Linked DNA regions of Homo sapiens. The protein of the gene in region 1 purifies or fractionates together with the protein of each later gene. This does not show direct contact. Each region holds a gene or a part of one and is shown in the gene's direction. Other genes may lie near its edges. The genes, in order: SSH3, HDHD5, MKS1, PAWR, PAAF1, FAM162A and ZNF330.

The links.
Region 2: the proteins of SSH3 (region 1) and HDHD5 purify together in Homo sapiens (affinity purification with mass spectrometry, with the first as the bait; one large-scale study listed by BioGRID). This does not show direct contact.
Region 3: the proteins of SSH3 (region 1) and MKS1 purify together in Homo sapiens (affinity purification with mass spectrometry; 2 studies listed by BioGRID and IntAct, with this or other methods). This does not show direct contact.
Region 4: the proteins of SSH3 (region 1) and PAWR fractionate together in Homo sapiens (co-fractionation; one large-scale study listed by BioGRID). This does not show direct contact.
Region 5: the proteins of SSH3 (region 1) and PAAF1 fractionate together in Homo sapiens (co-fractionation; one large-scale study listed by BioGRID). This does not show direct contact.
Region 6: the proteins of SSH3 (region 1) and FAM162A purify together in Homo sapiens (affinity purification with mass spectrometry; one large-scale study listed by BioGRID and IntAct). This does not show direct contact.
Region 7: the proteins of SSH3 (region 1) and ZNF330 purify together in Homo sapiens (affinity purification with mass spectrometry; one large-scale study listed by BioGRID and IntAct). This does not show direct contact.

The regions. Positions count from the first base shown.
Region 1 is NC_000011.10:67,306,530-67,309,810, forward strand, and holds part of SSH3 (protein phosphatase Slingshot homolog 3), read left to right. Parts: intron 1-308; coding exon 309-433; intron 434-512; coding exon 513-584; intron 585-841; coding exon 842-907; intron 908-1,019; coding exon 1,020-1,208; intron 1,209-1,316; coding exon 1,317-1,410; intron 1,411-1,644; coding exon 1,645-1,773; intron 1,774-1,882; coding exon 1,883-1,929; intron 1,930-2,867; coding exon 2,868-3,014; intron 3,015-3,238; coding exon 3,239-3,281. UniProt on the Homo sapiens protein: Protein phosphatase which may play a role in the regulation of actin filament dynamics. Can dephosphorylate and activate the actin binding/depolymerizing factor cofilin, which subsequently binds to actin filaments and stimulates their disassembly.
Region 2 is NC_000022.11:17,139,649-17,142,277, reverse strand, and holds part of HDHD5 (haloacid dehalogenase-like hydrolase domain-containing 5 isoform 2 precursor), read left to right. Parts: intron 1-69; coding exon of another isoform or gene 70-209; exon of another isoform or gene 210-881; coding exon of another isoform or gene 882-885; intron 886-1,044; coding exon 1,045-1,219; intron 1,220-2,629.
Region 3 is NC_000017.11:58,204,941-58,207,098, reverse strand, and holds the end of MKS1 (tectonic-like complex member MKS1), read left to right. Parts: coding exon 1-14; intron 15-551; coding exon 552-634; intron 635-718; coding exon 719-816; intron 817-928; coding exon 929-1,020; coding exon of another isoform or gene 1,021-1,109; 3' UTR 1,110-1,658; downstream 1,659-2,158. UniProt on the Homo sapiens protein: Component of the tectonic-like complex, a complex localized at the transition zone of primary cilia and acting as a barrier that prevents diffusion of transmembrane proteins between the cilia and plasma membranes.
Region 4 is NC_000012.12:79,621,465-79,624,964, reverse strand, and holds part of PAWR (PRKC apoptosis WT1 regulator protein), read left to right. Parts: intron 1-3,500. UniProt on the Homo sapiens protein: Pro-apoptotic protein capable of selectively inducing apoptosis in cancer cells, sensitizing the cells to diverse apoptotic stimuli and causing regression of tumors in animal models.
Region 5 is NC_000011.10:73,893,999-73,897,498, forward strand, and holds part of PAAF1 (proteasomal ATPase-associated factor 1), read left to right. Parts: intron 1-3,500. UniProt on the Homo sapiens protein: Inhibits proteasome 26S assembly and proteolytic activity by impairing the association of the 19S regulatory complex with the 20S core.
Region 6 is NC_000003.12:122,404,682-122,408,181, forward strand, and holds part of FAM162A (protein FAM162A), read left to right. Parts: intron 1-2,599; coding exon 2,600-2,708; intron 2,709-3,500. UniProt on the Homo sapiens protein: Proposed to be involved in regulation of apoptosis; the exact mechanism may differ between cell types/tissues.
Region 7 is NC_000004.12:141,223,895-141,227,394, forward strand, and holds part of ZNF330 (zinc finger protein 330), read left to right. Parts: intron 1-592; coding exon 593-612; intron 613-712; coding exon 713-783; intron 784-2,872; coding exon 2,873-2,952; intron 2,953-3,500.

The DNA.
Region 1 (3,281 bases):
GTTCGGGGCTACAGTGAGCTGTGATGGTGCCACTGTACTCCAGCCTGGGCGACAGAGTGAGACCCTATCTCAAAACAAAAACAAAAACAACCTCCTTCCTCAGCAGAAACAAAAAATGTGCAACCTATGTCAGTCCCATTCCCCGCTTTTTTCCACACAGTCCCTCTTTACCCACTGATTTTACATCTGGGAAGAGGGGGGATGGGAGAGGAAGGAGCAGGGTCAGCACTGTTCTGGGCCTGGGGTGTCTAGGTGGGGAGCAGGGTCCTTGGGGCCACTGTGACCCTGGGTTCCTCATCTCCCCCCAGGCAGCCCAGCTGGAGGCACCCCGGCCTCCCCGGCTCCGCTACCTGCTGGTAGTTTCTACACGAGAAGGAGAAGGTCTGAGCCAGGATGAGACGGTCCTCCTGGGCGTGGATTTCCCTGACAGCAGGTTCGAGCAGGGAGAGGAAAGGAGGGGCAAAGAGGTGAGGGACAGGGGGGACAATGGCTTTCCCTCTGTCCCCTGCCAGCTCCCCCAGCTGCACCCTGGGCCTGGTCTTGCCCCTCTGGAGTGACACCCAGGTGTACTTAGATGGAGACGGGTAAGCAATGGCAACTGGAGGTGGGGGCTGGAGGGTGGAATAACTGAGTGTGACGGATGTGACGGGGCCTGGGCACCAGGGTACAGTAGAACTTTAGGCTGGGACTCTGGGGCCTGCTCCCAGCTCCACGTCAGATTCACCGTGATCCTGAGCAAGGCACCTGACTCCTGGGTCTCGGCTTCCCGTATCCAGCAAAAGGATGGGTTCTCTGTCGCAGAGCCTGGAGTCTGGCCTCACCTGTGCCTGGTCTCCTGCAGGGGCTTCAGCGTGACGTCTGGTGGGCAAAGCCGGATCTTCAAGCCCATCTCCATCCAGACCATGTGGTAAGGACAGAGACTGCCTGGACTCAGGCCAGCCTCTCCTTCGAAGGAGGCTGCAGGGCCTGGGGAAGGGCAGCAAGGGAACAGTGTGACCCAGCCTCTCCTCCTGTCTCAGGGCCACACTCCAGGTATTGCACCAAGCATGTGAGGCAGCTCTAGGCAGCGGCCTTGTACCGGGTGGCAGTGCCCTCACCTGGGCCAGCCACTACCAGGAGAGACTGAACTCCGAACAGAGCTGCCTCAATGAGTGGACGGCTATGGCCGACCTGGAGTCTCTGCGGCCTCCCAGCGCCGAGCCTGGCGGGTCAGTGTGTGGAGGGGAGGGACTGGGTGGAGGGGAAGGCAGGATAATGCAGTGGGGGGCATGGTGGAGAGGGGAAAGGGCCCCTTGACTGAGGGGCTCTGCTCCCAGGTCCTCAGAACAGGAGCAGATGGAGCAGGCGATCCGTGCTGAGCTGTGGAAAGTGTTGGATGTCAGTGACCTGGAGAGTGTCACTTCCAAAGAGGTGGGCAGGGGGCCCGGGGACTGAGTCCCCTCTAGCAGGGGCTGCAAGCTTGCCTTTCCTGGGAGCCCTCCCCACCTTGCCTGTCTCCAGTCCTGAGCCATTCCTGGATGCCTTGGCCTTGGCCCTAATCCATCTAGATGGGATAGGGTGCTGTCCTCAGAGGTCCCAGAGGGAAGGTGGCAGGTTGGGCACTAGGAGAGCCCCAGCCTCTCTTGCCCTGGGCTCTGCCTGCAGATCCGCCAGGCTCTGGAGCTGCGCCTGGGGCTCCCCCTCCAGCAGTACCGTGACTTCATCGACAACCAGATGCTGCTGCTGGTGGCACAGCGGGACCGAGCCTCCCGCATCTTCCCCCACCTCTACCTGGTGAGCTTCAGCCAGGCCTGGGCCATGGGGACCGCTGGCAGCTGTGAGGGCGGCAGGCCAGGAGCAGAGGCTGGAGGAGAGGAGAAATGTGCTGTTCCCTCTCTCCCAGGGCTCAGAGTGGAACGCAGCAAACCTGGAGGAGCTGCAGAGGAACAGGTAGGGCTATGAGCCCCTCGGGCCACCCACCCCATCTTCCCTTCTCCTGGCCTCCCCGCATTGGGTGGTAGCCAGCTTCAAAAACCCCTGGACCACCCTCAGCAGCTGCTAGCTCTGCTTCTAACTCTGTCCTGGGGCTGTTGCCCTGGTGTGGGCTCCCAGGTGGGGACAGGAGACCTGCTGGCCAGCCCCCGCCCACTCTCCTCCCCCATCCACACTGTGAAACAAGGACAGAAACAAAGGGCCTCAGCCACGCCAAGACGAGAAGCAGCAGCGCATACTGCTGTAACTGCCTTGGACAAGCAGAAAAAGGCTCCTCTTGAATGCGCCTGTGGGCCCAGCTACTTGGGAGGCTGAGGCAGGAGGATCGCTTGAGCCCTGGAGATTGAGGCCGCAGTGAGCCGTGATCACGCCACTGCACTCCAGCCTGGGCAACAGAGAGAGACCCTGTCTCTAAAAAATAAGAAAAAAGAAAGAGAGAAAAAGCCTTTTCTCCACCTTGCCCTGTCTCAGGGAAGAAGGAACTGCCCTTCTCCCCGTGGGGACCTGGCTGCCTGCTCTGACAGGTACCTGTCATCTGCCCACCATGGGCTTCTGGGACCTGCTGTAGCCCCTGCCACCCACTGCTGCAGACCCACCCACTCTCAGCTTAGCTCAAAAGCTGTTCTCTAACTCATTTCTGAGAATAACTGAAGGGCTGGAGTTGCAGTTGGCCCAGCTGTCTGGACCAGATGGGGAAACAAGCCCAGCAGGGCAAGATGATTGGTCTAAGGTCGCAGCCAGGTGACAGCTGGGTCACTTCTCCTCCCACTGTCACTGCTGCCTCCATCTGACTTGAAACTCAGAGCTAAAGCGAGGCCCAGGGGCTGCCAGGTCCGATTGCCAGTGGGCCTGGTACCTCTGCCCACATCAGCCTGGCCTTGGGCCCTCTGGGACAGGGTCACCCACATCTTGAACATGGCCCGGGAGATTGACAACTTCTACCCTGAGCGCTTCACCTACCACAATGTGCGCCTCTGGGATGAGGAGTCGGCCCAGCTGCTGCCGCACTGGAAGGAGACGCACCGCTTCATTGAGGCTGCAAGGTCGGTCTCCTGGCTTTGCTGCCTGCCCCACTGTGGCTTCAAGCGGCCTCCGGTGCCCTCCTCCTGCCCACTCTGCCATCAGCTGTGCCATTCCTTCCAGCCCTCAGTGTCCTTCCCTCCTTCTCTACTCTCAGTTGGTTGTGAGCCCTTCACCTGCCCTCCCCTGCAGGAGGCGGGATCCTTCATGGTGAGGGGAGGGTGCTGAACCTGGCCTGCTTCCACAGAGCACAGGGCACCCACGTGCTGGTCCACTGCAAGATGGGCGTC
Region 2 (2,629 bases), on another chromosome or scaffold:
TCAGGTGGGACATTCAAATGTTATGAGGACATGGGAAAGTTTTTTCTTTTTCTTCTTGTTGTTTTGTAGAGACGGGCTCTCACTATGTTGCCCAGGCTGGTCTCAAACTCCTGAGCTCAAGCAATCCTACCACCTTGGCCTCCCAAAGTGCTGGAATTACAGACACAAGCCACCGCACGCAGCCATGGGATGGTTTTTTTAAAAATTAATTTTAGTGTGGGATAGTTTTTGATTGCACAGGATTGTCCTGAGTATGTAGCGTCCCTGGCCCCCTCCCACAACCTTCACTTGCTAGGTTCTAGTCATTGTGACAACTAAAATTGCCTCTGATTTGTAAAGCACCTCAGCAGGGGCGGTGCTGCCCCATGGAGAATCACTGGTCTGGTGCAGTTCACCGGCCCTGTACCTTAGTGTCAGCAGTGTTCTTTGCCTAGTGCTTACTGTGTGTCTAGTCCTGGGCTGTTTACCGATGATGTAGCTCATTTTTATCCTCACAATAGCTAAGTGCTGTTGCTGTTATGTAGTTGCAGTTGAGGAAACTGAGGCTTAGAGAAGAGAAGTTACTTGGCCACAGTCATACAGGAGAATCGGTGGAGTCCAGGTTGGGTTTCAAGTCTCTATCACTCCACACCCCCTGTCCTGGCTGTTAGGTTCTGCCAGTCCCTGGGGCTCAGAGAGAAGCGACTGAGGGAACAGGAGCCCTTGCTAAGTCATGTGAGGGAGAATGTGGTGGCAGAGTCCCAGCCAGCAAGGAGAAGTAGCCCTGAGACATGCTGCTTTTGTTTTGTAACCTCTTCTGTGAAGCACTGGTGGACTGAAGTCAGAATGGGAGCCCTCAGGAATCTCCTTCCTGGGCCCTGGGCCTTGTGCACCCAGGGTGGATGGGTAAGGGGCTCTACTGGGCTTGTTGGGGAGCTGTGCCCCTGCCCAGCTGGGTGCACCATGGGTGGAGGGCTTGTGGATGGGTAGCCCTAGCTGGCATCCTGAGGGCCTGCCGCCTGCCATCTGCCCTGCAGCCCTCACCTGCGCCTCTGTTCTTTAAAGGGGTGCTCCTCCTAGGGGAGCCGGTCCGCTGGGAGACCAGCCTGCAGCTGATCATGGATGTCCTCCTCAGCAATGGGAGCCCTGGGGCTGGCCTGGCAACACCCCCCTACCCCCACCTCCCCGTCCTAGCCAGCAACATGGATCTCCTGTGGATGGCTGAAGCCAAGATGCCCAGGTGAGGACACAAAGCTCCCAGCCTTGGCCTGGTGGTCTATTCCTGGCTGCTGCCTGGGCAGTCCTGCAGGCAGTTCCCATCCGTCCTGACACCCCAGGTGCCGGGACCTCACTTAGGTAGGCCCTGTTGTTGCTGCAGTAACCTGGCCTTTGGAAGGGCTTTCAAGGACCACTCCACATATTAGTTACTAAACCTAAACTACAGATTATGGAGTCTGAGGATGTATTGAGAGGATGTTTCACACGTGACCCCTGCCCCCTGTAATCTTTACAGAACATGCTCTTGGTGTCTGGTGGATCCCAAACCGTGGGCACTTTTTGTACCGTATCTGTGCACATTATTCAGTTGCTCTTCCTTCCTTGGCTCCATCCTGTAGCATTGGTTCTTTGACTTTCTGGTTTCCTTTTACCCTTCAGACATAAGGCAGGAGGAAGCAAGGATTTGTCGTTTTTTGTTTGTTTTGTTTTTTTTGCGGGGACAGTGTCTCACTCTCTCATCCAGGCTGGAGTGCAGTGGTGCAGTCATAGCTCACTGCAGCCTTGAACTCCTGGCCTCAAGTGACCCCCGTGCCTCAGCCTCCAAAAGTGCCGGGATTACAGGCGTGCTCCATCATGCCGGCCAAGGATTGTTCTGATAGTCGTATAGACCAGAGAACTGAGACCCAGCAGATAAGTGGCTTTCTCAGGGGCATGCAGGTGCCTATACTCCCTGCTCAGCTGTGTTGGTGTCATGTGTCCTGTCTTATTCTGGGGCTAGCACAGATAGAGGCAGCCCTTTTTTGGCCTCAGGGTGCTTACTTGAAGGCCAGCTGACAGCTGCTGTGTACTGTTCGGTTGCTGTTATCTGCATGGCCAGTCTCTTGAGTCTCAGCCTGCTGTTGACCCCCAGTCGACAGTGCTCGTCAGCAGAGGGTGGGCACGGCCCAGTACTGCCTCAGGGCCCGTCTCAGTAGTCCCAGAGAGACGGGGTATGGTATGCTCTTGTCACTTTTAAAGTGTATGTCTGTGGCTCGAGGCTTGGCATTGTCTCTGAAGTATTATTCCTAGAGGCGGGTATGCTGACACTAGATCAGTGGGCTTGGTTGGTTATGTCTCTGTGAACTGAAAAGCAAGGGGCAGATTTCAATTTACAAACCAGATTTTAGATGAACTTTTCTAATTAAAAGTAGAATTATTTACATAAATGACACTGAAAGATGTGGTGGCTCATGCTTGTAATCCCAACACTTCGGGAGGCCGAGGTGGGTGGATCACCTGAGGTCAGTTCAAGATCAGCCTGGCCAACATGGCAAAACCCCGTCTCTACTAAAAATATAAAAATTAGCCGGGCATGGTGGCAGGTGCCTGTAATCCCAGCTACTCGGAGGCTGAGGCAGGAGAATCACTTGAACCCAGGGGGTGGAGGTTGCAG
Region 3 (2,158 bases), on another chromosome or scaffold:
CAGGATCCTTCAAGGTGACTTTTGTCTTTGGAGTGACTTCACGCTGAGAACTTATGGTCCTGTCCTTCTGTAGGAGGTGGGATCTGGGTCAAGACCCCTTAGTTGTGCATTGCTTCAGTATTAACCCCTTCCTTCCTGTGGCTTAAGCTGGAAGTCATGACCACATTTTGAATCAGGTTCCAATATCTACACTGCTATCGTAGGAGGTCTCTGGAAAATAGTATAATTAGAGATTTCCCCTGGTTCCCATCAGAATAACTGGCTCTTTCCCCCATCACTGAAGGCCTCAGTAATCAGATGTGGGGAGGATTCACAGTAAGCATATAAGACCGCCGCTTCTCAAATGAGGTTGGAATGTTCCCTGGTTTAGTTGGGGGAGCCCAATAGCCCAGTATTAGCCTTGAGGTAATAGAGTCTGGGTGATGGAATAAGGTTTCCCCAACAGAACTGCGCTTCCCAAGAATGGGAATAAGAATGGGGGTGAGGCCAGCATGGTGCGGGGGTGTCTAGAGAGAGCAGAAACCTGAGGCTGTCCCAATGGCATGCCACAGGGGGAACGCCTGAGCCGCTTTGGACTCCGCACAGAGACCACAGGCACTGTCACCTTCCGCTTGCACTGTCTGCAGCAGTCCAGGTGAGTGACTTGGCCCTCTGCCTCAGGGCACCTTAGCCCTGAGGGGTGGAGACAGCCGTAACCATGTGGCTGGCCTCCCTGCAGGGCCTTCATGGAATCGAGCTCCCTTCAGAAAAGGATGCGGAGTGTGTTGGACCGTCTGGAAGGGTTCAGCCAGCAGAGTTCCATTCACAATGTGCTAGGTATGTCCCCTCCCCCAGCTGGCCACCCCAGGTCAGCATGGGCCTGTTTCTCTCTGCAGTGCAGAGAGAAATACCATATGGCAGCCAAATAGCATATCTCCTTTCCTTACAGAGGCCTTCCGTCGAGCCCGGCGCCGCATGCAGGAGGCCCGGGAAAGCCTCCCGCAGGACCTAGTGAGCCCCTCTGGAACCCTGGTCTCCTAGCTCACAGCAGCCCTGGCCCACAGTGCAAGAGGACAAGATGGGGGATATCTGAGGCCAGTGCTCTCCTGCCTCTTCGTCTTTCTGATTAGAGACCACGTTGGTCTGCTGAGAACCAGAAAAGCTGGGAAATTCCCGGCTGGCCCCTCTGCCTAGCCTTCTGCAGGGTCTTCTCCCTACCCTGTGGAAATAAAGCCAGAGACCCTGTGGCCCCCCCTTTATATTTGCAGCCACTGTCAATGGGCATCACAGCAAGGCAGGCTTTTTGATCTGAAGCTGTTTGGGGTGACCCCATAGTGAGTCTGGCCTTGACTCACTTTTCTGGCTTGTCTCACAGTAGCAGGGGATCTGCTGTTCTCCACCCTTTAAAAATGGAGCCTTTCATCTTCCAAGACCAAAGAAGGAAGGAAGGTGGACGGTGAGAGGGTCTTAAATCCCCAGCCTGTGAGTCTCAGCCTCTTTCCAGGGAAGCCTCATTCTACTGCTTGGGGCTTGCTGAGGTTGAGATATGAGTTATTTCTGAGTAAGTGAAGGCTGAAGGCAGTGCTGAGTCCTTTCTGCTAGCTGGGTGGTATCTTTTACTGTGTTTTTTTGTTTGTTTGTTTTTTTGTTTTTTGTTACATAAACCCCTTTTATTTTGACTGATGTTCTGTTGGCTGTTTGTCTGCTCAGGTTGCTGGTATGGCTAGGGTGTTCTTAATGTCGGGGCCCCTACCATGTCTGCCCTTCCCCTTTTCTGCCTTTCCCTACTCCACAGTGTTTCTTTGGGCTCTCCTAATTCAGCCCCCAGGAGAGGCTTAGATGGTTGTGCCAGCTTGCGTGTTAACAGCACTTCTCTTAAACATCTGGAGCAAAGCATGGAACTGAGGCCACGTCTTCCCTAGCCCAACACAGAAACAGCAGCCCCTGCCCTTAGCAGTGCTTTATTGGTAGAAGCAGAGCATGCTGCCTGGCCTCAGGCTCAGAGGAGTATTGTGGGGTGTCTGGAGGCTAGGACCGAGTGGTCTCTTAGTCATGGTGAGGGAGGGGAGGGAGGGCTGGGAAACAGTAGAAAGTGCTGTAAACCCTCCAGCTGACTTTTCTTGCCTGGGGTGCAAGACCACATGGCTTGGCTCCCAAGCCTTTGCACGTGGCGCTGATT
Region 4 (3,500 bases), on another chromosome or scaffold:
ACCTTGTGAGCCAGCAATCCTAATACTAAGAATCTATCCAGGAAATCCATTGCATATATACAGAAACTATATATATAAGCCTTTCTAACACATTTTTCTTAGAGCGTGTAAAAAACCCAAATGTTCATCAATAAAGCTCTGATTAAAATATGGTAGGTACATCTATTTAATAAAATTATTATGCAGCTGAAGAAAGGAATGAGGAGAATCCACTTCTCTTAAGTATGGCAGATACAGGAATTCTCTTATTTCTCATGATTTCCGCCAACTTCTTCCTCCAGATGTATTTATCCCAGTTAGAAAAGATTGCTTAAGAATTTCTAGGATGCTTGTTATCAAAAGAACTGCACTGGTTGCTAGCAGAATTTTGGAGAGAAGTTGTGATTCATCAAGTAATCCTATACTAAAAGCTGCCTGGAACGTTAGATACATACTGTATCCACAGGGATACTATGTGTGATGAATAGGTTCCCAGTTCAGTGGATAGCAGTGTTGCCATGGGAAAGAGCATTCAGAATTTTAACTTCAGGTATCACAGTTCACCTTCCAGTTCATCTCCAAGATGATTTGTCTCATCTTGGTAACTCATTCATTGTTTTATGAAACATTTACCGAGTGTTTTGTTTCTTCCTTTCTTTTTTCTTTTAATATACTGGTAAGGGAGTCTAGTTGAGGGGGCAGGAGGAGGGAAAGTTAGTGTTGTGGGGCTGGGTCTCAGAAAATGAAAACAAAGACAAATAAAATAGCATCCCAGTGCTCTGGGAGTGCGTGGCTACCTGCCTCAACTTTTGCTTTCTGTTAATATTAATCTATGATAATTTAAGAATTCCAACTTTAAGCTAATGATGTTGGAGCCTAGGTGAGGGATTTTTGAGTCCATATGCTGGAGAATAAGTGATGATTGCTTTCACACAGTAGAAGACTAGAGATGAGACCATTCTTTATTCTTTTCCAGATCTCATACTTTTGCTTCTCCTACTGTTCATTAAATGATTGACCTCTCCTCCCCCTTTTAAAGCAACTCCTTGATTTAAAATGCCTTTTATGCTATTTTATTCTTTCTGTTCTAGGACCTCTATCAGGTATTTTTGTTATTGTAGTTTTATACATTTTAACATTAACTAGAGTGTTTGGTCATACCTCTTTTTTAAAAAAGTAATTTTTTTGATATCTTATGTATTTTTTCTTCCAGATGATGCACCACTACTTTCCAAATAAATTTCTTCATGATTTTGATTGGAATTTTAATTTATGTGTTAAGAGACTGTTGACACCTTCACAATACTAGATTTTTCTTAAGAGCAGGTTTTAATTTGTATTCTTCAGTAAAGTCTTATAGCTTTTTTCATGCACGTACTGTTTTTTAGTTTTTTAATGGTTGTTACTAAAAATTTTGTAACTGGCTATTGATGTTACTTTGGGAAATTTTTTGCTTATTTACTGAAAAAAATCTTAACTCATAATTCTAAAATGTTTTTGTTTTTTACAAAATCATTTCCTCTGATGGTAATTTTGCCTCCTTTCTAATGTTAAAATCGCCTATTCTTCTTACCTAGTTCTATCAACTAGCACTTTCAGAATGATGTTAACAATTATGTTAATAGTGGACATCAATGTCTTGAGTCTGATTTTACTTTAAATTTTGCTGGTATGTTGTCATTAAACAAGATATTGTCTAGTGATTTGAGAAAGTTTTTGAAAGTCCTGAGAGAGATTTTTTTTTTCTAATAAGGACTAATTTCTTAACACTTTGGTGTCCCATACCAGATTTCTTTCACTGACTCTGTTTCCACCTATGATATATCATTTTTCATAGGATACAATTGCCTATGTCATTTAACTAGTCACTTAACTAGTCTTTTCACTTTTGGTCTTGTTCCTGTTCTCTGCATTGCTATTTCCAGGTTCTTCCCAAAAAGAATTTTGATCATTCCTTATCCCAAGGAACTGTATAGCATTGTAACATCATTCCAAGCTATGGAGTGAGAAGTCTAAACTTCTTGGGTTATCTATTATTTATGTTCCCTCTATGCCTTTCGAGTCCTCACTTTTGTCAAAAACTGTAATGGCTTTGAGATCATACCCCACTTGCTGGCTAACACGTTAGCTTGTGTATGCTGGCAAAAGATACTAGTCTCCTGGGTTAGTTAGAGTCAAGAACAGTTTAGACTCAGCAATAACAGTAGCTACAGTATCATAATTTTCTTGTGCTGTTTCCCCAAGCCCCACTCTTGGCAGGTTGATATGACAAGGGCCAGGTGACACCAAATCTCAACCTGCATGCTCCTTTCATTTGCCCTTTCCATTTCTGTCCTCAGACTTCTCTGTATCATCCTAATGTTGTAAGACTCCATCTCAGCTAGAAACCATCATTCTGAGCAAACTATCACAAGGACAGAAAACCAATCACTGCATATTCTCACTCGTAGGTGGGAATTGAACAATGAGAACACTTGGACACAGGGTGAGGAACATCACACTCTGGGACCTGTCGTGGGGTTGGGGGAGAGGGGAGGGATAGCGTTAGGAGATACACCTAATGTAAATGACGAGTTAACGGGTGCAGCACACCAACATGGCACATGTATACATGTGTAACAAACCTGCACATTGTGCACATGTACCCTACAACTTAAAGTATAATAATAATAAAAAATAATAAAAAACACTCCATCTCAGACAGATGCTTTCTTCCATGTCCTCCATTGTAGACCTTGTCTTTATCAAGCTTGGTACCCCTTTCAGTATGTTCCTCCTATCTCCAAATATTCCAGTGCACCTTCTTGGTTTGCACAATGGCTTCAGTGTTTTCTTCTCTCTGCACAACTTTTTTTTTTTGTCCAATTCCTATTGTCTTCACTGCCATACTGTTATACTTTGCTGTGATCAGTTCCTTAGTGTCTCTACAAAGAGGTGTGTGGTTTTTTTTGTTTTTGTTTTTGTTTGTTTATTTGTTTTTGTCTGGAGGGGGTGTGAGTTCTCATGCAGAAACCTTTAGGGCAGTGTATTGGTTAGGAATGTATTCAGTTGCAAGGAACGGATAACCCAGCCCATGATGTGTATAATGGATAGAGATTTGTTTCTATTTTGTTTTTCTTATGTAGAAAGTGTAGAGTTAGATAATTTCTAGTGTTGCTTCTGTTTTTTAGCAGCCTTCTCTTGTAAGCTTTTCCAATATGCTGTTACATGTGTAATTCTCTTTTTTTATATATCTGCAATTCCAAATTGTAGCCATTCTTTAAATTACAAGATTTTTTATAGTCTTTTCTAACTCTCCAGGTAAAAATACTCTTCCTTTATATGCTCATAGAATATAAAGCTAGAAACTGGGCCTTTATCACTAAGTTATCTATCTATCTATATATATGTATTATCTTTCCTACTAGATTATAAATTCCATTTCTTTAATGCATCCTTTGTTACCTTCTGCAGAATGCCTTGTTTAAGGTAGACGTAGTTTACTTATTGAATGAATGATAAAGAATGAATAAACCTTTCCT
Region 5 (3,500 bases), 6.6 Mb from region 1:
TGCTCTGTTGCCCAGGCTGGTCTCAAACTCCTGACTTCAAGCAGTCCTCTCTCCTTGGCTTCCCAAAATGCTGGGATTATAGGTATAAGCCACTGTGCCTGGCCTTTATACATCATTTTTTATTATTTTCTGCTTTAACTGAGGGAGAAGGCAATTCACCTCTTGGGAGAGTTGGGAATGCCGCTCACCTTTTGAGAAGTAAGTCATTTTAAAAATCATTTACAGGCTAGGCACAGTGGCCCATGCCTGTACCCAGCACTCTGGGAGTCCAAGGCAGGAGGATCACTTGAGCCCAGGAGTTTGAGACCAGCCTAGGCAACATAGTGAGACCTTGTCTCTACAAAAAAATAAACAAAATAGGCTGGTTGTAGTGGCTCACACCTGTAATCCCATCACTTTGGGAGGCTGGGGTGGGCAGATCAATTGAGGCCAGGAATTCAAGACCAGCCTGGCCAACATAATGAAACCCCATCTCTACTAAAAATATAAAAATCGGAGGGAAGGGATAGCATTAGGAGATGTACCTAATGTTAAATGACGAGTTAATGGGTGCAGCACACCAGCATGGCACATGTATACATATGTAACTAACCTGCACATTGTGCACGTGTACCCTAAAACTTAAAGTATAATAATAAAAAAAAATCTACTAAAAAAAATAAAAATAAAAAAAAAATCAGCTGGGCATGGTGGCACACGCCTGTAATCCCAGCTACTCCGGAGGCTAAGGCACAAGAATCGCTTGAACCCAGGAGGCAGAGGTTGCAGTGAGCCGAGGTTGCGCCACTGCACTCCAGCCTGTGTTACTGAGCAAGACTCTGTCTCAAAAAATAAAATTAGCTGGATGTGGTAGTGTGTGCCTGTAGTCCCAGCTGCTCGAGAGGCTGGGATGGAAGGATTGCTTGAGCCTAGGAGGTCAGGGCTGCAGTGAGCTGTGATTGTGCCATTGCATTCCAGGCTGGGTGACAGAGTGAGACCATGTCTCAAAAACAAACATAACTGTGCTCCTTTTCTATTTCTTATTCTCTTTTTATTTGAGCTTACTGAAAGATGATTCATCCATTTATTAATCACCTACTATATTTCAGCCAGTCTTCTGGATACTGAATAAAATAAATAAAACTGCCCTTATAGATCTTACATGCTAGAGATGTGGGACTAGACGTGATTTGCTGATGACTTGGATGTTAAGTATGAGAGAAAAGGAGGAGTTGGGATGATTCAAAAAATTTTGGCCTGAGAAGTAGGTGAATTGTGTTCCATTTACTAATTGGAGGAGGAGGAGTTGTATTGGGATGGGGCAGGGGAAATAAAAGTTTTCTTTGGACATGTTCAGTTTGAGGTTTCCAGTCTAGCCTAGGTGTTCACTGCCTACCAGCAAGCAATTGGATAGATACCACCTGTATCAGGACAGAACCTGAAGTATGTTGCTTACAAGTAAAGGATCCACTACTAAGTTAGCAGTCCTTTTATTCCGAGGAAGCAAAATGAAGAAGAAAAGTCTTAGAAAATGTTAGAGTTGATGGATATATCCCTATAGTTCTTCCCAAACTTATTTATTATGGTTTAATTGACATAGAACAAAGTAAAATGGAAAGTTGGATAATTAAAGCCAAAGTCCCTACTTTTTTCTTAATAACTTATGTGGGAATTATTGTTGCTGGGAATGTGTCTGGAATTGCATATCTTGGTCCATCATTTCTGGAGCATTTGCAGCTGGTTGTTTTTTAATAAAAGTGTACATGTATGCATGTGTATAAAAGATTTGTTATTCTGATAATGGCTTATGCATGAAGTGATTGCTGATACTGAAATTACAAAAGTGAGGCTGGGCGCGGTGGCTCACGCCTGTGATCCTAGCACTTTGGGAGGCCAAGGCAGAAGGATAGCTTGAGCCCAGGAGTTCAAGACCACCCTGGGCAACATAGGGGGACCCCATCTCTCCAAAAAAAAGTTAAAAAATTAGCTGGACATGCCAGCCCATGTTTGTAATCTCAGCTATTGGGAAGCTCAGGCAGGAGGATCACTTGTTCCTGAGAGGCTAAGGCTGTAGTGAGTTGTAATCATGCCCCTGCACTTCAGCCTGAGCAACAGAGTGAGACCCTGTCTTTAAAAAAAACACAAAAACTATAAAAGTGAGTTTGGAAAACAAAAAGTGAATCTGAAATTTCTCTATTCTTTATTCTGAAAGATCTATATCTGTATATTTTCTATAGCTATACCTATATATAGGTATATGTGGAAATATCTGAACTCTTTTTTTTTTTTTTTACGATGTTTCTTTTTTTCTTTTTTTCTTTTTTATTTATTTTTTTTTTTATTGATCATTCTTGGGTGTTTCTCGCAGAGGGGGATTTGGCAGGGTCACAGGACAATAGTGGAGAGAAGGTCAGCAGATAAACAAGTGAACAAAGGTCTCTGGTTTTCCTAGGCAGAGGACCCTGCGGCCTTCCGCAGTGTTTGTGTCCCTGGGTACTTGAGATTAGGGAGTGGTGATGACTCTTAAGGAGCATGCTGCCTTCAAGCATCTGTTTAACAAAGCACATCTTGCACCGCCCTTAATCCATTCAACCCTGAGTGGATACAGCACATGTTTCAGAGAGCACAGGGTTGGGGGTAAGGTCACCGATCAACAGGATCCCAAGGCAGAAGAATTTTTCTTAGTACGGAACAAAATGAAAAGTCTCCCATGTCTACCTCTTTCTACACAGACACGGCAACCATCCGATTCTCAATCTTTTCCCCACCTTTCCCCCCTTTCTATTCTACAAAACCGCCATTGTCCTCATGGCCCGTTCTCAATGAGCTGTTGGGTACACCTCCCAGACGGGGTGGTGGCCGGGCAGAGGGGCTCCTCACTTCCCAGTAGGCGCGGCCAGGCAGAGGCGCCCCTCACCTCCCGGACGGGGCGGCTGGCCGGACGGGGGGGCTGACCCCCCAGACCTCCCTCCCCGACGGGGCGGCTGGCCGGGCGGGGGGGCTGACCCCCCCACCTCCCTCCTGGACGGGGCGGCTGGCCGGGCAGAGGGGCTCCTCACTTCCCAGTAGGGGCGGCCGGGCAGAGGCGCCCCTCACCTCCCAGACGGGGCGGCTGGCCGGGCAGAGTGGCTCCTCACTTCCCAGTAGGGGCGGCCGGGCAGAGGCGCCCCTCACCTCCCGGACGGGGCGGCTGGCCGTGCGGGGGGCTGACCCCCCCACCTCCCTCCCGGACGGGGCGGCTGGCCGGGCGGGGGGCTGACCCCCCCCACCTCCCTCCCGGACGGGGCGGCTGGCCGTGTGGGGGGCTGACCCCCCCACTTCCCTCCCGGACGAGGTGGCTGCCAGGCGGAGACGCTCCTCACTTCCCAGACGGGGTGGCTGCTGGGCGGAGGGGCTCCTCACTTCTCAGACGGGGTGGCTGCTGGGCGGAGGGGCTCCTCACTTCTCAGACGGGGCGGTTGCCAGGCAGAGGGTCTCCTCACTTCTCAGACGGGGCGGCCGGGCAGAGACGCTCCTCACAT
Region 6 (3,500 bases), on another chromosome or scaffold:
AGTACCATTGACAATGACTGTATTCCCCCAAATCCACTTAAGTACTCAACCTTAGGTGTAAAAGTATTTAATTGCAATATTCTGGAATTCAGGAAAGAGTGCTTCCTGTCACCAACTTCCTTAAACCTAAGGGAAGGGATCTTGGCTGGGATCATGGAACTTTTTCAGAGTTTGTAGATGATGAGTGCAGGTTCCTCCAACCCAGTTTCTCAACTCAGTACTATTGATATTTGGGGCTTGATAATGCTTTGTGGCAGGGGGGTGTCCTATTTGTTGGAAGATGTTTGGCAGCATCCCCGGCTTCTGCCCCCTACATGCCCGTAGCATTGCGGCAGTGCTGACAACCAGAAATGTCTCCAGACACTGCCAAATGTCCAAGGGGCACGAGCGGGGTGGGAATCTCCCCTGGTTGAGAACCAGTGCCCTAGCCTCATGTTAAAGACCCTGACTGGCTGGCATCTTGGCTAAAAAGAGATTCTGAGAAATAGATGTCATCTCCTCTGTGAGGCATCATCCTATTCAGGGACAGGGACTTCAGACAAAGCTCGTGGAAGTTCCCTGTCAGCAAGAAACTATTCCTGGATCTTCTGGTCTCTGGTTTCAAGTCATGATTGAAAAAGATCTGAGCTCATTCAGGATTTCTTTCCCAGGGAAATATGTAGTATTTACTTTCTGTTTACAACAGCTTTAATAGAGCTTTTCTGCTTCTGCCAGTCAAATTGATAGCACATTACTTTAACTAGAATTATTTCAGCAGGAAAGCCCTGGTTTTTCTTAGCTCAAGTCATGTATTCTTCTGGGAAATAAGAGAATACTGGAAATAACAGTGACATCAGGTTCTTGCCTATGCCCTAATTCTTCCTATACCAGCAGAAAATAAGCTGGTAGACACCCATGGCCTTAACAGATGCTGTATAGGCTTTGCTATAGAACACCTTCCTCAGTCTGCCTAATAGTTGGTTCCAAGATCCCCTCAGGCCCAAAATACTACCTCACGAATCACTCTGGAAGGGTCTTTTCTGGGCCTGGGCAGCCATTTGTCCTTGTGCTGGTAGTTCTGAACAGGCACTGCTTAACTTGCCCATTCCTATTACTCCCTATGGAATGGATTACTTTTCATGAGGATCATGGCACTTCAAATCCCATAAAATACCGTCAACATGGGAAGTCAGTTTGTGGTTAGTGGAATCTCAGGTGCTCCTAACTGACCAATTTGACAGTCCTTAGCAGTTGTCTTGGGTTCCTGCCAGCCTGCAGGCCCAGCTTAAGTGCCTGGAGAACCCCGTCCACATGCTGCCTCACAGGTCCCAGCTCCTACATCACATTGTACATGGCTTCATCATCTTCCTCCTTCCACCTGCAACATCCCAGACTCTTTGCCTCCTTCCAAGCATTTTTAAAGTACTCCCCTCCCCAATTTTAAAAGTAATATATGTTAAATATCTCAGGGGAAAGAAAGCACTTCAATCCCATCATCTAGAGATAATCACTTCCTATTTACACATCTACTGAGAAGGCCATAAGTTAATCCTGGGCCCCATAAGGGCTCCACATCCCCTGCCTTGAGGTTCTGCCAGACACCGAGGTAACAGAATCGTGACCACCAGGTGTGGCAATGCATGCCTATAGCCCCGGCTGCTCAGGAGGCTGAGGCAGGAGGATCGCTTCAGTCTAAGATTTTGAGTCAGCAACATGGTGAGACCCCATCTCTTTAAATAAAGTAAATTAAAAATAGAACCATGACTCACTGCCTACTTGCAAAATCACCAAGGTAGATTGGCCTTTAGACTCTTCTATATTAAGCCTCTTAGGTTTCACACAAGAATGATGAACCAACCATCAACTTTTTTTTAAGGCACATGGGTCTGTATTCAGTAGATAGGTTAGAAGAGCTGCACTTTGGCACTTGCCAAAGACCACAATATCAAGTTCACTGTCACTCAATTTTAGCAAAACATTTGTTTAAAAAGATAAATATTGAGGAGCATTGCTTAAAGGATCTTCCTACTATTTTAGATATTCTCAAATCTATTCTGGGTTCAAGACAGAGAGCAAAAAGCTGGGTATATGGAGCACATTGGTTAACTTTCTCCAATGTTTGATCATTCTGAATTGTGCTTTGTGTTGAAACATATGAAGCTTATTGTAGTATCTGTTGTCGAGATGTTTTCAGACGATGACTACATCACATAATGTCTTCTTAAGAACCTCAGGGAGAAATGACTGTTTCACTTCTAGCATTTATAGGCTGCTTGGAAACCTGAGAGCCAAAATTGGGGTCCACCATAGCAAGTGTAGATTAATATGCCTTGCCCATTTTTTTTTTTTGGCTTTGTTCTTGACTTCTCTTTTTGTTTTCTTCTTTTGTACTTAATTGTGTGCTATCCTGTATTTTATACATAAATGAGTTACGAAAAATGCCTCATCCTCCCCAAAGTCCTATGAGATCTCTAGGCCCTTTTTAAAGAGATCTCTAGGTCTCCCTATTTATATTTATAGACACTACTACATTTTGAATTTATACACAGCCTTTTATCCTGAGCAACTTCAGAAAGGGAAAAGTTAATAACTTTCTCTCATGATCTCATTGTATTACTAGGTTGGAGATGCTTGATGCTGCAAAGAACAAGATGCGAGTGAAGATCAGCTATCTAATGATTGCCCTGACGGTGGTAGGATGCATCTTCATGGTTATTGAGGGCAAGAAGGTGAGAAGGGGTTTCTTCTCTATCCAGTATGTATGTTCTCCACCAAGAACCTAGAGTAAATCAGGGATTGACCCTTGTATTTACCCTCTGAGAAGAGGAGGCTACTTTCTACATTACATGAGAAAAGATAAGCAAAAAAATAAGACATATTGGGAACAAGCCTGGAATATCATCCTTGGGGATAGATAGCAAATCCTAACTTTGGCGTGGTGAAGAAGGACTAGATTCATTTTGTGTAATGTAAATTTAAAAAGTGTTTCTGATGACAGGTGTCATAATGTAAATTAAGAAATAGGACACTGGCATATTTAATCACCCACTGCATATTTCCAGAGTGCTCTTGGTACCCAAGTGTATTTACCCTCACCATAACTGCCTTCAGCATGGTGAGCTTTCTTAGCGGGGTTCTTTATTTGAAGCTCAGCCAGACAGGGCCATGTGTCTAAGGACCACAGCTCCTAAGCAGTACATAGGAATACAAGTCCAGAAATCTTTAGCACAGATTATAATTAATAGCTATCACTAATTGAACACTCACTGCATTCCAGGTACTTTTCTAGCTGGTATCTCATCTGAACCTCACAAAAACACTGTAAGATAAGTATTATTAGGACCTGATTTATAGATGAGGAAAACTATAGCTTAGAAAGCTTTAGTAACTTGCCCAAGGCCACATATCTCCTTAATGACGAGCCACAGTGTGAACCTAGACCCAATTCAGGTAATAGGAAAATTCCTCCCATTTATTGAGTGCTTATTATGTAACAGGCACTGTTAAGCTCACTTAATCAC
Region 7 (3,500 bases), on another chromosome or scaffold:
CATGGAGAAGAGAGAATATAAGACATATTTGGAGAATGGCTGACCATTAGTGACTTGAGTCTAAAAAGAATAGGCCAAGAAGGTTTGGAAAGTGATTAGGGGCCAGATTGTGGAGAGCTTTTAAAACCATGTTTAGGAATCTGGATTTTCTGTGAACTTTATTATTTTGTATTCTCTTTGGAACGGTGCCTTAGATAAATGCATTATTTTAAGGGTCACCCACTTCATTTGGAATAATATGTGCTTAACGTTTCATAAGGCTTAGAATGTACTTAACTATCAAAAGGATAGTTCTTGTGTTCATTCTGTGGTATTTTATTCCTTACAAACAATTGAAAAAGAAACTACCAATGTATTTAGCCTCCTTTGTGATAATGCCACTTCTTCAGGGAATCATATACCCGGAGTATCACTCTCGCATACCTTTGTTATTTTAAGCATGGGTAGGTGCTTGTATACATGGGTGGAGTTGGGGCTTTGGTGTAGTGTCACTTAAATTTTAACCTGAAAAGCAGGTTATTCTTTGTAATACAAGTAAATTTGCAGTTTTCAGTCAGCAGAAAAATTAATGTGATATTTTTATATGTTACAGGAATGTGACAAGTGTCAGAGGTAAATTTTATTTCTTTTTCTATCTACCTTTAATAAAATTGTCCCTCTGACTTTTTATCTGACATTGACCATAATTTAAAATTTTATTTTACATGACAAGGCGGCAGAAGAATAGAGCATTTTGCTACTTTTGTAATTCTGTACAGAAGTTACCAATTTGTGCACAGTGTGGTAAGTTTGTAATAATTAAGGACATATGCTTTTTATCAACTGGTAGTTCAACAATTTGAACTTGGGTGGGTTTGTTGCTATTGGTTACAGTGCTTACAATTGTTGATAATATTATGCCTTACCATTAACAAAATAACAAAACATGTTATTTTGCCTACCAAAAAACTATCAAGCCTTGGTTTTGTCTCTTTGATGTAATGCTGGAAAATAATTAAGGTACAATTTAGATACAGGTTACCAATAAGTGTTTTTAAACAGTGAAAGATCAGATTTCAGACATAACATTTGGTGATCCTGAACTTTTAGTTATACTACCTTAGTCTTGTCAGTATCTGTTTGTTTACTTATCTACATTTTGATTCCTGCTGATATTACCTGCAGTGTGTTAGACCATTGGGAATAATTTTATTCCACATTTACCTGGTACTTATTTTGTGATCAGTAGTTTTTGTGTTTGATGCTTACCATATGATTCATGAGTTTCCTCACATGTATTCCCAGGTGATTTAAATAGAGTTCTTAAGTCATGTGCCCGGTTCTTAAGTATAGGTGGAGACTTGTACCCCAAAATGATTATACAAAATAAAACTAAATGTTAGCAAGATGGGTGTTTCCCAAATAGTCTTCCACAGACTTCCTGAAATATTAATGGATATTTCTTGAAAAATATATATCGATATACATTTGAGAAATACTGCATGCATCCTCCTTTCATTCTCATCTGGGAGATTTCTATTATATATTTATATGTTAGAAGTTCTGAAGACTTGCAACAAAGAAACCCAATTAACTTTATTACTCTAGATTTACATCCCCCCCCAACTTTTGATGAACAAGTATTGCTTTTATTTATGAGATAATAATAATAATTTCAGGTAGAACAATTTGGGGTATGCTCATTTAAGTGTGTTTATATGTAATAATATTCCAGAAAGTTAGTAGTGTTTAGGGCTATATCCCTGAATATTTCTAATGTAGTTCTAGCTTTCAAAGAAGATCTTTTCAATTCCACAATTAATGAAAAAGAGAAAACTGGCCTATATGGAACACTCATATGGTAGTTTTCATAGCCTTGTTTTGCAAAAAGTAATGAATGTAGAGTGAGGAAACAGAGTTTGTGGAAGATTAATAGGTAAGTTCTTGCTAGGACTTACCCCTATTTTCAGTGTCTCTGGGCTTAAATTTTGTAGTGTTGTTAGATGGATACATTTCTCATTTACTGATTCTTAGTGTTGGACATGGAACAGTTGGGTAGCTGCTGCCTCTCATTTCCAGTTTCTCTTCCCATTTCCTACTAACTTTGTTCCTTAGGAAATCAAGATAACGGAAAATTGTTTCTTTTGTGTTCCATTTTGTGGAGTCTCAGATGGATGATTAATGTCATCATTAACTCTCACATAATATCTGATAAGCAAATTTCCTGATAGTGTTTTGAGTTGGTAATTTAATTTGCTTCTAGATCAGAGGTTTAGTGGCTGTGTGGTGATTTGTAGCTGTATCACCGTATTGTTTATTGTGCTTATTTGGGCACTATTTCAAAATTTTGTTGGGAAAATGTTTAACTGGGGGCTTCGTTGTAAATTTTTATGTTTGGATAAAATTACATTAACTCGATAAGTTACATAATCATTATTTGGTTTGGTTTGAGGTATTATTCTGTGGAAAGAAATAACTTCAAACCACAGTTTTTATTGTGAATTATAAAATGTAAAATTTGTTATAAAAAGCATTCCTTTAAAAATTGTTTTGAATAATCTGAAGATTGATAAGTTTTTAAACTGTTAAAATGATCATTAGATTACAAAGCATAACCTGCAATTTCTGATTTAGTACAAATTAGCATATATATTGTATAGTTCATTTTACAGATTTATTAGTAAATGTATAATCTGAAAAGTCTGATTCGAGTAATGAAGTCTCAGTTATATCCATTTTCTCTTTCTAGTTATGTAAGCAGTAAATACTGATTCAATTTCATTAGTTTTTAAATTATTTCCTCAGGAACTTGGGCTGGATAAAAGGAGGAATTCGTGAGTACTGGTATGTATTCCTTTGCAAGACTAACAGTGCAAATGTTTTTCTTCATTAGGGAAAACAAAGTGCATGATGAAGTCTTCAGACTGTGTCATAAAGCATGCTGGTGTATACAGTACTGGCCTTGCAATGGTGGTAAGCTTCTTATTATCTCTTAGACTAGTACGTTTTCAAGGATAAGAAAATGTCATTCTGATCAGTGGTTATTTTTTTCTAAATATCATTGCTTTGTCCCTTGTTTCAATCAATCTGTAGTTATCTGGATTATGAGTGGCATGCTTTTTGTATGATTTTCCCTTAGTACCCACTTGTTTCTAGCTGCTTCTTTCTTTCTTATTAGGGAACATACAAGGCATGGAAACTTTTCATGCTGATCTAAACAGAATTTCATTTCTCAGTGGTACCTTTTTTTTTTTAAATTTTATTATTATTATTATACTTTAAGTTTTAGGGTACATGTGCACAACATGCAGGTTTGTTACATATGTATACATGTGCCATGTTGGTGTGGTGCACCCATTAACTCGTCATTTAGCATTAGGTATATCTCCTAATGCTATCCCTCCCCCATCCCCCCACCCCACAACAGTCCCCGGTTTGTGGTGTGTGATGTTCCCCTTCCTGTGTCCATGTGTTCTCATTGTTCAGTTCCCACCTATGAGTGAGAACATGCGGTGTTTGGT